Linked DNA regions of Homo sapiens. The protein of the gene in region 1 interacts with the protein of each later gene in a pairwise test. Each region holds a gene or a part of one and is shown in the gene's direction. Other genes may lie near its edges.

Region 1 (7,093 bases):
GCAAACAGTATCCTTTTTTACTCAAAGCTTCTCGGGGCTTATTCTTTACTTGGCTCTAGTTCCTGATTCTTGGGGGTTTACCTCACTCTTGTCTACCTGGAGAAATCTACTCATATGTTAGTTTTGGAGCCCGGAAGAACCAGGGCTGACACTCAGTGTTTATAATAAGAGTTAATTCCCAATTTGGTATTTGTAGAGAGTCCACTGTGTTCCAAGTACTGTGTAAGGTTCCGGAGGAGATATCGGAGGTGGATAAATATTGGTCCTTGCCTTTGGGGAATTCAGAGTACCGAATAGCTCTTTAGGCCATTCTCTCATTAAGTATTTTCCAAATTTCAGCTCTTTGCACATCAGCTTCAAGGTTTTCGTCATATCCATGTACTACTTGTATAATTATTTACATACTATTTCTGCCTAGATAAACTAACCTTTTTTATCTTAGAAAAAACTGAATGGCTTAAAGTAACAAGTAAGACAGCTGGGCAAGTCTCTGCATGTCTCCCCTGGGTTCACTCATGCAGCTACAGTCATCTCAGATGGTCTTACACAGCTGGTGCAGGCTGTTGGCCAGCCTCACCCTCCACATTGTCTCTCATCCTCCAGGACACTAACCCAGGCTTCTACACATGGTGGGAGCAGCGTTCCAGGTGATGAGATCAGCAGCTGGGAGACCTGGTGAGGACTAGACTCAGATGTCCCATAGCATTAGTTCTGCTGCCTTCTGTATTCACAAGTCACAATGCCAAACATGATTCAACGAATAAGGAAATGGACTTCACCTCTTATTAGAACAGAGGCAAAGTCACAAGGCGTATGGATTCAGGAAGGGAAGGAGTTATTGTGTCATCTTTTTGATCAACTTACCATATCTGGAAAACACTAGCACAAAGTGGGTGTAGGAATATTAATATCAAAGTTGAAGTCAAGGTGAAAAGAAACTAAGAGGAAATATTTCTTAGAGATAAAAGAAACACTACAAGAAGAAGATAAAATAGTCATGAGCATGTTTTCGTCTAATGACATACATTCAGAATATGTAAAGCAAAAGCTGTTAAAGAATAAGGAGAGGCTGGGCACACTGGCTCGCAGCTGTAATCCCAGCACTTTGTGATTACAGCACTTTGTGAGCCCAGGAGTTCAAGACCAGCCTGGACAACATGGGGAAACCCCATCTCTACAAAAAAAATACAAAAAGCCAGGCGTGGTGGTGTGAGCCTGTAGTCCCAGCTACAGTGAGGACAGGCAGGAGGATCACATGAGCCCGGAGAGATTGAGGCTAAGATCGCACCACTGCACTCCAGCCTAGGCACAGAGTGAGAACCGGTCTCAAAAAAAAAAAAAAAAAAAAAAAGGAAAAATTGACCCCAAAAATCACAGTGTTAGATTTTAACATATCTCTCTTGGAAAATAAAATATTAAGCACTTTAAAAAATAAAGATCAAGACTATTTGACTAACACAATAGCATGACCTAATAGAAATATTCTGAACTACGTTCTAAGCAGAGTATACACATTCACAAAAATTGACCATAAGCTAAACTGCAAAGGAAATCTTAACACATCTCCCCACCCAAAAATAATACAACACGGACCATCTTCTCTCACCACAATGCAATACAATTAGAAATGAAAAACAAAACGATAGCCAAACAAAAAACAAACCAGTGTATGTCTAGAAACTTTTAAACAGACTTGTAAATAACTCAAGTTAAAGGGGTAGCAGGACCAGAACCTAGACTTCCAAATAACCAGTGTAGTTCATGATCTAGTCCTTTTGTTCATATAAAGCTATTTGTTTTAAAATAGTTGCTGAATTACATGAAAGGGTGAGAAAGTGGGAGAGACAGAAAGGCAGAGACAAAACAAGGTGGGCTGGGAAAGGGATTCACTGGAGCAACGAGTTCAGTGTATGGAAGAATTGAAGGGTCAGATAGTTATTACCAGCCAGGTTCAGCAAAGCCTAGAAGGATCTGCTGGTCTCAGTGACCTGGGCAGGCAAACACCACCCAGCGGAGGCCAGGGGAAGACACCAGCAAGCAGGCCAGATCCTTTGAGCTTGGATCGTGGGGTAGATTCTATTTGCTTCTAATCCTTTAGTGCAGATGAGCTCCTGTGTGCAGAGGAGAGAGGTGGCTCCTAGAAGCGGGTAAATTCCAGAAACTACAAGGGGCCCAACAGTCAGTATCCAGAAGGATTCCAGATGGTTCCAACTCAACAATGCCAGAATACTCACAACATAGCAACTGTCCGTTTTCTGAACATTGGAGTCCAGTGGTGCCTGAGCCAGGAGGCTTGCCAATTCAGTAGACCAGACGTGGTATTTGCTCTACACAGCACAAATCAGAGGGCATATTTGATAGTGATAACATAGCAGTCATTTAGCTTGTGTAGAGGGTTACTCGGGATATTTCAGACCCCCAAAATTCTACTTGTGGCCTTAATTATTCACATTATTTGATCACATCAGTTAAAATACAGAGTACCTATCATTCTTTCCTTTGCACTATGGTAACGGAACATCTGTTGGGCTGAAATCAATTTTTTCTCCTTTTTGTGTGAATTCATTGATGCCTTCATCCACCCACTCACCCATCCCTCCATTTAACTAACACTCAAAGCAAACTTAACACATCTCAGATCCTCAGTGCTTCATGTGTCATTGTTTACGTCTCCTCTGATTACTTGTAGATGAGAAAAATAAAGAAGGTGGTGTGAGTTACTTGGGTGCAAAACGATATTCTAGTTTTGCACTAGAAGTGCTCAGCTAAAACTGTGCTAGATAAATAACTAAAAAAAAGGAGAGAGAAAAATGAAAAAAAAAAAAAGAGCGTCAGAGAGGAAACGGGAGGGTCTCAGTGGGGAATTCGGCTTCCTGTCGTCTGGGTTTTGATTTTGAGTTGTACTAGAGGAGTCTTTATGTCTGGAATGCTGAGAAAACCAGCCCAGGCCAGGCGGGCTGTGAGGGCAGGATTTAGAGGCGTTTAGTTTCTTAAACTCTATAGTCTGGATTCCGGTGTCAGGGGCCTGAGCCATTTTCCTCCTCCCCTACCCGTCAGCTCCCACTCCCTCCAAACTTCCTAAGAAAGTTCTGAGTCCTGCAGAAAGACAGGCTTCTCCATCTTCCACACCCGCGCAGATTTCTCTTTCCTCACACATGCACGCCCAGGCCCAGCGCCCCAGCCCCTCACCCCCAGGATAACTGTTAGAGTCTCTCACACGGGGCTGTCATCATTAACACCCCGAGATTCCCGAGGGCTAGGACACTGAGGCCGGTGTCCACATCTGCCAAATTCCTCCCATAGCTGCGTGCGAACTGAGTATGTTCCTAAGACGCCTAAGGAGTTCAGCACGGGGCTCGGGGTCCACTGCGACACTGCGCGGACAGCGGCCGCTCGGCTGGGCCTCAGGTGGGGAGGGCTCGCGGTCCTGCCCTGAGCCCGGGCTCCGCAGCTCGGCGCCTGCACCGCTCCCCTCGCCGAGCCCGCGGCGGAGTCTGCCGGCCGCACGCAGCAGGTCTGGGGCTCACCTTGAATCGGGACCTGCGGGGACCGCCGTGCGGCTTCCCGCTGGGTGAGCGCCGCAGCCCTGAGTGGCGGGGCAGTCATTCCCCTTTTCCAGATGGGAAAGCCAAATCTTGAGCCCAGCGCCAGCACCGTGTTCTCAGGTGCTGGGACTTCCAACCCGCGATCTCCTCACTGTAGTATTTCTGGGAACCTTCCCTGGGATTCCCCTCGGGGCGTAGAGGGAAGGAACGTCTGGGGACAAGCGTCCAGGAAGGGTCTGGATTCTTTGTCCTCCGCCGGGAGCAGGCCCCACCGCAGGCGCCAGTGTGTGGGGCGCCCCGGAGACGGTGGCGGGGACCGAGCCCCTGCCCCGCGGAGAAGCAGAGGGCGCGGGACGCCGTTCCCCAGCGCTGCCGCCGCCGCGCTCGCCAGGGCCTGGAGTGGCGCGGAGGGCGGCGGGCTCAGACCAAAGTCCACCAGGGGGCAAAGTCCGCGGGCCCCAAGCCCCCACCACGGGGTCGCGGGGGTTTGCTCCGCCTCGTGAGCTTGGGATTCTGGTTAAAAAGGCGGCTGGGCGGAGCTGCGGGCCTCCGACGGCGGGAGGACAGCGCTGCGAGGAGGCGCCCGGGACAGTCATGGAGCGCCGCCTGGGAGTGAGGGCCTGGGTGAAGGAGAACCGGGGCTCCTTCCAGCCCCCGGTCTGCAACAAGCTCATGTGAGTCCAGCACCCCCATGGCCGCCCCCTGCCCTCGCCTCCTCCCCCTCCTCCATCTGCGCCCTCACCTTCCAGCTCCGAGTTCCTGGACCCAGAAGCTTGCAGAAGGACCGCTTTAATCTCTTGGTTCTTGGGGGAAGATGGAGACAGGCTGTTCCGGTTCCACCACATCGGTCTGTTCCTCTTTCTTGTGACTGTGGCCTTGACTTCTGAAGAAGGCTGAGCTGGTTCTCAGGCTGTAGGAGATGACATGACAGGGTGCACCTCTCCTTCCAGGGCTGAGAAACAATTCTCCAACCCCAAGTGACACTGTGCATTTTGGGAAAACTCAAAAGTGTGGGGAGGGTGGTTTTCAAGGCAGAAATGCACTAGAATGTAGGCCTGGGGGCAGCCAAATCATACACCCCAACCCTGTCCCAGAAGCCACAGGCAAAGGGGGAGGCAGAGAATCCGCTCCTTTGGGAAGATCTTGATGTCTTGCTTTTTTCAGGGCCCCTCTATGCAGGTGTGCACGAACACACACACACACACACCACACCAGACCCTCCCTAGGCCACCTCTGCCAGTAGCCTCTGCCTGCAGCACCCAACAGGGTTGGCCATCCAGCTGCCATCTTTCTCAGGCAGACCTCTCAGGCCCTCCCCTGTGGTATGGTCACCTCCCTCATCCCCCCAGTTCCATGGCGGGGCCCCACATGCCAGCTAGATCAAGGTTTACATTCCCCATTTTTGCTGTGTCCACAGGACATGGTCAGTAGGGTGGCACCTCAAGGCAAACAGCAGGCCCAGGACTATGCCAAGTGTTTTTACATCATCTCATCTCATTCTCACAGTAGCACCGTGAGGGGGGATTTTCATAAGTAACTTTTCTAGTGTCACGGAGCGCCTGTGCGATAGGCTCCAGACTCAACCCACGGAGCAGTTCGACTCCAGAGTCCACGCACACTCTTGGTTACCATGCAATACCACATGGCCAACAGTCAATATCTCCCCAAAGATCTCTTCTATCACTGTTGTTGCCCACCCCCAATTAAAGATGTAGCATCATCTTTGCCTCCTTCCAACACTTCATCCCCATCTGCAGTCGCTCCTTCTCAGTCCTCCCTTCGCTCCCCCTGAGGTCTCGCGTCCATCTGCCCGGGCCTCTCCCTAGCATTTGGTGGTTTGCTGGCATCATTGGTATTCTTGCTTCTGCTGTACCACGCCCACCTCCACCTTCGTCTTCACAAGGCAGTCTCCTTGTGTGTGTGTCTGTGTCCAAATTTCCCTCTTTTAAAAGAACACCAGACATATTGGATCAGGGGCTCACCCTACTCCAGGATGACCTCATCCTAACCTAACTACATCTCAAGGACCCTATTCCAAATAAGGTCACATTCTGCAGTACTGGGCGTTAGGACTTCAACATATAAATTTTACAGGAGGGGTTACTATTCAGCAAGGTGAGAAGCTGCTGAAGCAAGCAAGGTGAGAAGCTGCTGAAGAGTTCTGGGCAGAGGAGGGGCAGGTCTGGTTTATGCATTCTGACTGATGGGTTGAAAGAATTCTTGAGTGGAGTTGTTTAAGAATTGTCTGTATGTACCTAAATTACATCTCAGTGAAGTTGATTTTAAAAAACAACTTTCAAGCCGGGCGCAGTGGCTCATGCCTGTAATCCCAGCACTTTGGGAGGCTGAGGTGGGTGGATCATTTGGGGTCAGGAGTTCAAGACCAGACTGGCCAACATGGTGAAACCCCGTCTCTGCTAAAAATACAAAAATTACCTGGGCGTGGTGGCACGCGCCTGTAGTCCCAGCTACTCAGGAGGCCGAGGCAGGAGAATTGCTTGAACCCGGGAGGTGGAGGCTGCACTGAGCCGAAGTTGTGCCACTGCATTCCAGCCTGGGTGGCAAGCAAGACTCTATCTGAAAAAAAAAAAAAAAAAACAAACTTTCCAGGTTCCCCAGCACCCCTTAGGCCAAGACCAGACTCCATGGCTGGTCCACCCTCCTGGACCAGCCTTCTCAATCGTTCCCCAAGCTCACCCCCAGTGCTTCTAATCTCAGAGCCTCTGCACCCAGCTCTCCTGTGCACACTCTTCCCCAGTCAAGTTCCTTGCGGCTTCCCTCCCCTCCTTGAAGCTCTATGCAGCTTTAAGTTCTTTAAGCATGGACTGTTCATGACAGCCTTCTCCTGCCCTGCAACCTCATCCACCTTTCCAAACATCAGGTCCACACGTGTGTTTCCGGTTTATTGGGCCCAGCCTCCCAAAAGGGAAGGAAAAGGAAAGAGACTGGCTCTTCCGTCTTGCCTCCATGCCTCCCAGCTGGGCTGGAAAGCAGCCCACAGGACAGGACACTCAGAAAGGACCTGCCAGTCTAGTTTGGGGGCTCAGACCTCCCCCATAGCCCCTCCCCTGCCATCCACACCATCGTCATCCATGCAGGCAGCCTCTAGGCTGCTGTGCCCTGTGTGTACAAATGGTCCCAGACCCAGCGCCTCCCCTTCCCAGAGGAAAGCCCTTGCCCCTGCCCTCTGTGGCAGGGCCACCTGAGAACACCCTGAAGCCCTACACAGACACATTCTGCTGCTTATTCACCCCAGTGTCTGCACCCTGAAAGGGGACCCTGCTGTGGGGATGGGGCAGGCTGTTCTCAGGAGGTGCTGAGGTATTTTTTGCATAAAAAGGTAACACCACACCAACAGCAGAAAGACTGAGGAGTTTGGGAACCCTTTTGTTCCAAACAGCTGACTAGATGCCCCACAGACCCAACGCCAGCGTGGGAGTCAAGGAGCCTGAGACCTGGCTCAGGTTCAGTCATTCCCTGGCTTTGTGACCCTCTCTTGGCTGGCTAAATCGGCTGTAAAATGAGAGGGTTGTATTGAGTTTATTTAT
Region 2 (6,792 bases), about 130 Mb from region 1:
GCATTCATCAACCTTTTGGGTTTCATTTCTGTACCTAAGGAAAAAAGCTAACTATTGGAATTTCCCCCAAAATATGAGTGAGGGAGAGGATTACCATTTGATTATTTGTTTCAAAAATATTTGTATGCAATCAAGGAAAAGAAATTTTGATTTCATAGTTTTATATTACATACCTTGTTTTTGTTATAAATTAATTTTAATAATTTCTATGTTTAAGATTGAGTCTAACTGTCTAACTAACACTCAAACAACAAGATTTTCTGGCAAAATTTCTAGTCAAATATTTCTTCTGTAGGAAAAATTTGGTAGATTATTAGTTTTTTCCTCAGTAAGTCATTTTGTCTTTTTTTTTTTTTTTTTTGAGACAGTTTCATTCCTGTTGCCCAGGCTGGAGTTCAGAGGCGCGATCTCTGCTCCCTGCAACCTCCGTCTCCCAGATTCAAGCAGTTCTCCTGCCTCAGCCTTCCAAGTAGCTGAGATTACAGGCATGCGCCACCATGCCCATCTAATTTTATATTTTTACTAGAGGCGGGGCTTCACCATGTTGGCCAGGCTAGACTTGAACTCCTGACCCCAAGTGATCCACCCACCTTGGCCTCCCAAAGTGCTGGGATTACAGGCGTGAGCCACCGCACCCAGCTCTATTTTGACTTAATATAGAAATAGTCTGAATTTGATTTCTATTACAAAGTAATCATAGGAATTTTAAACATATAAATAGCCATAGGCTGGGCACGGTGGCTCACGCATGTAATCCCAGCACTTTAGGAGGCCAAGGCAGGCGGATCATTTGAGCTCAGGAGTTCGAGACCCATCTGGGCAACAAAGTAAGACCCCATCTCTACAAAAAATACAAGTTAGTCAGGTGTGATGACGCATGCCTGTGGTCCCAGCTACTTAGGAGGCTGAGGTGGGAGGATCACTTGAGCCCAGGAGGCGGAGGTTGCAGTAAGCCGAGATCATGCCACTGCACTCCAGCCTGGGCAACAGAGTGAGACTCCATCTCAAAAAAAAAAAAAAAAAAAAAAAGCCATAAACGGCAACAACAAAAAAGGAGTCGTGTCATTTTGAAATATAATGACCACACAACCTGTTTCAGTAATTTGTGTCTTCTTTTTTGTTTCTAACAATAACCTCTTGAACCATCTGCTGCAGGTTTTGACCATAGTGATTGGTTGCTGAAATGGGACCCTGGTACAGGCTTCATTCCTAAGTGGACTGACTAGGGTGTACAGTCAGCAGTGACACTACCTGGGGAGGCTGATGCTTTCTCAGTGCTGGACTTTGCTCAGGCCCATTAGCAATCCACAGCCAGCCTTGTGCATCTGCTCTCCTTGTTAACACCGACCCACTCAACAACCCTCATACTGCTGTTATTAATCAGCCATGCTGGCTTTTGAAACTCATGCTCAACCAGTTTGTCAATAGTTGGAACTATTGCAATATCAGGGCATATACTGAGACCAATGGCTTCCCCATCTACCTGCCTGCCTGTCACCTAAAAGGCATAACACTGTTATGTGGAAGGTTGCCTGCCTGAGAGGGCATGGGACATGTTTCACAAGGACTTACTGCTGGGGAAGATGAGTTCTACAGCAGTATCTTTCGAAGTTTTTCTGATGAAGAACCAGTTATTTGTTGTTGTTGTTGTTGTTTTTCACCTATCATGGACCAATACCCTAAAGATTAATTGTTAGAAAAATGAAATTTAAAAACATACAAAGAACAAGCCACTGTTTTTTATTAGAGTCAACAGACAAAATCCCTTTGTCCAATTGCCATTAAAGTTTCCTATGCTTAATCTCAATTTCTACACTCATTTGATTGTAGACCAGTTACAGTTGTGGAGTGGCCTCAGTTCATAGATGACACTTTGAGTAGCACCATCCTAAAGCAAACCAGAATCAGGCATAGGTCCAGTTGAGAATAACTACCCAGAGACTGGAGTGCCTTTGAAAGAGGAAGCAGGCACACATCATTTATTGCATGCACATCTGTGAAAAAGCTGACATATTTGATTAGATTGTTCTTCCTAACCAGCTCCAAAAATACTTTTTTTGTTTATTTCCCATAGACAGGGACAGCATAGCCTTCCCAAATGCTCATCACAGGGAAATGCAACCACAAACATGACTTTTCTCTTTAAAACAGGGCACAGTGGGATTTGAAAACCAGATCAACAAATGCCTGGAACTGGCTGAATACCTCTATGCCAAGATTAAAAACAGAGAAGAATTTGAGATGGTTTTCAATGGCGAGGTAGGTAATCATCATGGACCAGGTACACAGTATTTCCAGAAAAACTGCTGAGGGAAGCTCCTGAAGCTTCTGGCAACATGGGAAAATCAATCCCATGTTGCCAGAAACTGCTTCAAAATTTTTATTCTTATACACTCTTAATTCCTCTCTTTAATTCCTTCCATGTCTATGAACTTTTCTTCTGGTAGCACTGGGATGACTTTTTCCTTTACATCTTTTAAAACTGTGTTGCTCTTGGCCAGCTTTTGGCAGACAAGAGGTCTTTCCTTGACAGGTCTGAATCCTTCATCATTCTTGGGTTTGTTTTGTGTTGAACCTTTATGAAAAAGTGTTTTTCAGGCTGGGCATGGTGGCTCACACCTGTAATCCCAGCATTTCGGGAGGCCAAGGCAGGAAGATTGCTTGAGTCCAGGAGCTCAAGACCAGCCTGGGCAACATAGCAAGACCCTGTCTCTATAAGAAAAAATATATATAATTTATGAAAAGAAATTTTACAAAACGATAAAGTGGTTTTCATTTCCAGGAAGCTTATAGGATGGGTATATTCTTACCTCCCAAGACTTGTTCTAAAATAAGGTTCTACTTAACATAGACTCATAAGGAAGAGAGCAAGATAAAATTGTCTCTGCCCTCAGTTCATGTGCATACTGCACACAGCAAAGTATTTGTCAGTGTTTACTGAGTACCCACTGTGTGCCAGGCCTCCTGCTAGGACCTAGATTCTAGAGTATTGAACAAAACAGATACATTCTCTGACCCAATGGAGCTTACACTTGAATAAAGAAAGATAGAATAGGAGCCAGTGTTGAATAAAAGAAAATCCACTTATAAGCCAGTATAATATAACACTGCTTACAGTCAACATTATTCTATTTATCAGGCAACCTAAACTACTAGGAACACATGTGAATCACCAAATGAACAAAAAAGAGCCCTGGGCAGTTTAAAATCAGTGACACTGCTCTGATCATTTACACACTACTTTAAACACTCTTAATAGCAGATTAAAAACAACAAATGTGATATCTCAAACCAATTAGAGGCAGGCACAGTAATGGCAAACAGCAACCAGCGAGAAAACTTTATAGCAAGAATAGGGAAGAACTCAAAAAGCACAGGAATCTTTAGAGGAGGGACACTAAACAGTTTGAGGCATCTCAACAGGCCTTGCCTTATGCTGTAGAAACAGTCTTTTGGTTTTTTTTAGGAGCAACCCTATTAATTGATATATCCAGTCTTAATGTTTGTTATGATAGTCCTGAGTCATCAAGAAAAGATTCAATATCAATATAATAAACTCAATAAAATATTCATCAGCATCCATAAACTATGTTTCAATTATCTTCTATATGTGAGGCACTACAAAATGACAACATGGACAGACGGATACCTTTTTTAAAAAATTGCCCAAATGTAATTATTTGTAACATTTCAATGTTTAAAGTCGGTAACTTTAGTTACCTAGAAAATTGGTTGTAGGGAACAGCTCTCTTGCCACATATGATTGGATAAATGAGGCATTGTTCTCCCTGGTGTGGAAGTAACATTGCCTTTGAGATGAACATTCAACCTCTTTCTTTGGTCCAAGAGACTTCCACCAAGGATGCATATTGGTTTGGGAACAGCTTTCTCTCAAGTTATCCTAATTTTCTTTGTTTGTCTTTTAAAATCTCTGCAGCCTGAGCACACAAACGTCTGTTTTTGGTATATTCCACAAAGCCTCAGGGGTGTGCCAGACAGCCCTCAACGACGGGAAAAGCTACACAAGGTATGGACTTGCTTTTTGTCTCATCTAATCCTCTGCAATTTCTCTGGCTGGTCAGGACATCCTCATTCCAATGTGCCTTTCTAGTGGGGGAAATATAAAAAATAAAGCCTTGGGGTGGGTTTCTAGTAATGGGGTGGTGGGGAGCCATCCTGTTATATTCCTCTTGAGCCTGCATCGCCCCCTTACTGTGGTTACCACGGGAACTTCTAAAGGATGCATCTTGTCTCCTTGTCCTTGGTTGATGTTCTTCATTAAAGGAGCCCTATGCAGGGTAAGGGAATAATGTGCATATTCCTAGGGACATTCTAGATTAAACTGTGTCTGTTACAATAACATTTTAAGTTCAGGCCCACTGTAATGCTGATTCATTCTAACTGTTTTCTATATCCAGTTTATATCTTATCCAGGGTTCTTAAGATTATATTTAATTTATATAACATTTCATTCATCCAACCATTCAACAAATATTTGTTAAACACAGTCTGTGTGCCAGGCAGTATCCTGGGCTCTGGGTTATACAAAACCCTGAATTTGTGGTGTTGTCTATAAGAGTTTTTTGGTTTTGTCTTCATTTTTTATTTTACTATCATTGTTCCATGACTGACTTTCAAAATTCGGTTGCACAGTACTTTCTGAGGGAACTTGTGACCAGGTAGTCATTTGATATTAGCCCCTGAAGATTCCTGGATATGAAATATTTCTTTGCTTTTATGTCAATGTAAACACAAATAGTAAAATGCAAGTTGGGTTGAATTGTTAAAAAGAGAGGGTGTTCATATCAATCTTGAGTTTTGTTTTGTGTTTTCCATCACAAGGTGGCTCCAAAAATCAAAGCCCTGATGATGGAGTCAGGTACGACCATGGTTGGCTACCAGCCCCAAGGGGACAAGGCCAACTTCTTCCGGATGGTCATCTCCAACCCAGCCGCTACCCAGTCTGACATTGACTTCCTCATTGAGGAGATAGAAAGACTGGGCCAGGATCTGTAATCATCCTTCGCAGAACATGAGTTTATGGGAATGCCTTTTCCCTCTGGCACTCCAGAACAAACCTCTATATGTTGCTGAAACACACAGGCCATTTCATTGAGGGAAAACATAATATCTTGAAGAATATTGTTAAAACCTTACTTAAAGCTTGTTTGTTCTAGTTAGCAGGAAATAGTGTTCTTTTTAAAAAGTTGCACATTAGGAACAGAGTATATATGTACAGTTATACATACCTCTCTCTATATATACATGTATAGTGAGTGTGGCTTAGTAATAGATCACGGCATGTTTCCCGCTCCAAGAGAATTCACTTTACCTTCAGCAGTTACCGAGGAGCTAAACATGCTGCCAACCAGCTTGTCCAACAACTCCAGGAAAACTGTTTTTCAAAACGCCATGTCCTAGGGGCCGAGGGAAATGCTGTTGGTGAGAATCGACCTCACTGTCAGCGTTTCTCCACCTGAAGTGATGATGGATGAGAAAAAACACCACCAAATGACAAGTCACACCCTCCCCATTAGTATCCTGTTAGGGGAAAATAGTAGCAGAGTCATTGTTACAGGTGTACTATGGCTGTATTTTTAGAGATTAATTTGTGTAGATTGTGTAAATTCCTGTTGTCTGACCTTGGTGGTGGGAGGGGGAGACTATGTGTCATGATTTCAATGATTGTTTAATTGTAGGTCAATGAAATATTTGCTTATTTATATTCAGAGATGTACCATGTTAAAGAGGCGTCTTGTATTTTCTTCCCATTTGTAATGTATCTTATTTATATATGAAGTAAGTTCTGAAAACTGTTTATGGTATTTTCGTGCATTTGTGAGCCAAAGAGAAAAGATTAAAATTAGTGAGATTTGTATTTATATTAGAGTGCCCTTAAAATAATGATTTAAGCATTTTACTGTCTGTAAGAGAATTCTAAGATTGTACATAAAGTCATATATATGGAAATCCTGTTACTTAAATAGCATCTGCTCTTCTCTTACGCTCTCTGTCTGGCTGTACGTCTGGTGTTCTCAATGCTTTTCTAGCAACTGTTGGATAATAACTAGATCTCCTGTAATTTTGTAGTAGTTGATGACCAATCTCTGTGACTCGCTTAGCTGAAACCTAAGGCAACATTTCCGAAGACCTTCTGAAGATCTCAGATAAAGTGACCAGGCTCACAACTGTTTTTGAAGAAGGGAAATTCACACTGTGCGTTTTAGAGTATGCAAGAAGAATATAAATAAATAAAAATATTCTCCATGGAGAATTTGAACAAAATTTTCTTCTAGTTTGTGTTTCATACAGAGATGTTTCTAATTAGAGTTCCTTGGGTTGCCCATAGCCCATTTGCTTTCTATTGGCTGACTTTAGGTGATGCTCAGTACCCTGATTAAGCTGAAGGAGACTCGATCCACTGTCACAGGCTCTGAAGCTCCTCATCTATAAAATCATTATGGGCTGGGCATGGTGGTGCATGCCTGTAATCCTAGCACTTTGGGAGGCTGAGGCAGGCAGATCACTTGAGCTCAGGAGTTCGAGACCCATCTGTGCAACAGGGCGAAACCCTGTCTCTGCAAGAAATGTAAAAATTAGCCAGCTGTGGTGATGCGCACCTGTGGTCCCAACTATTTGGGAACCTGAGGTGCAAGGATCACCTGAGCCCAGGAGATCAAGGCTGCAGTGAGCTGAAATCGTGCCACTGCACTCCAGCCTGGGTGACAGAGTGAGACCCTGTCTCAATCAATCAATAAAATCATTATGATTATAATTAATTAAATGTGCAGT

Evidence for each region. Proteins that work in one complex are often made in the same cells at the same time.
Region 2: the proteins of HAAO (region 1) and GAD1 interact in a two-hybrid assay, tested with the Homo sapiens proteins (4 studies listed by BioGRID and IntAct).

Annotation. Positions count from the first base shown.
Region 1 is NC_000002.12:42,789,583-42,796,675, reverse strand, and holds the start of HAAO (3-hydroxyanthranilate 3,4-dioxygenase), read left to right. Parts: upstream 1-4,092; 5' UTR 4,093-4,139; coding exon 4,140-4,219; intron 4,220-7,093. UniProt on the Homo sapiens protein: Catalyzes the oxidative ring opening of 3-hydroxyanthranilate to 2-amino-3-carboxymuconate semialdehyde, which spontaneously cyclizes to quinolinate.
Region 2 is NC_000002.12:170,854,867-170,861,658, forward strand, and holds the end of GAD1 (glutamate decarboxylase 1), read left to right. Parts: intron 1-2,151; coding exon 2,152-2,259; intron 2,260-3,937; coding exon 3,938-4,027; intron 4,028-4,842; coding exon 4,843-5,016; 3' UTR 5,017-6,285; downstream 6,286-6,792.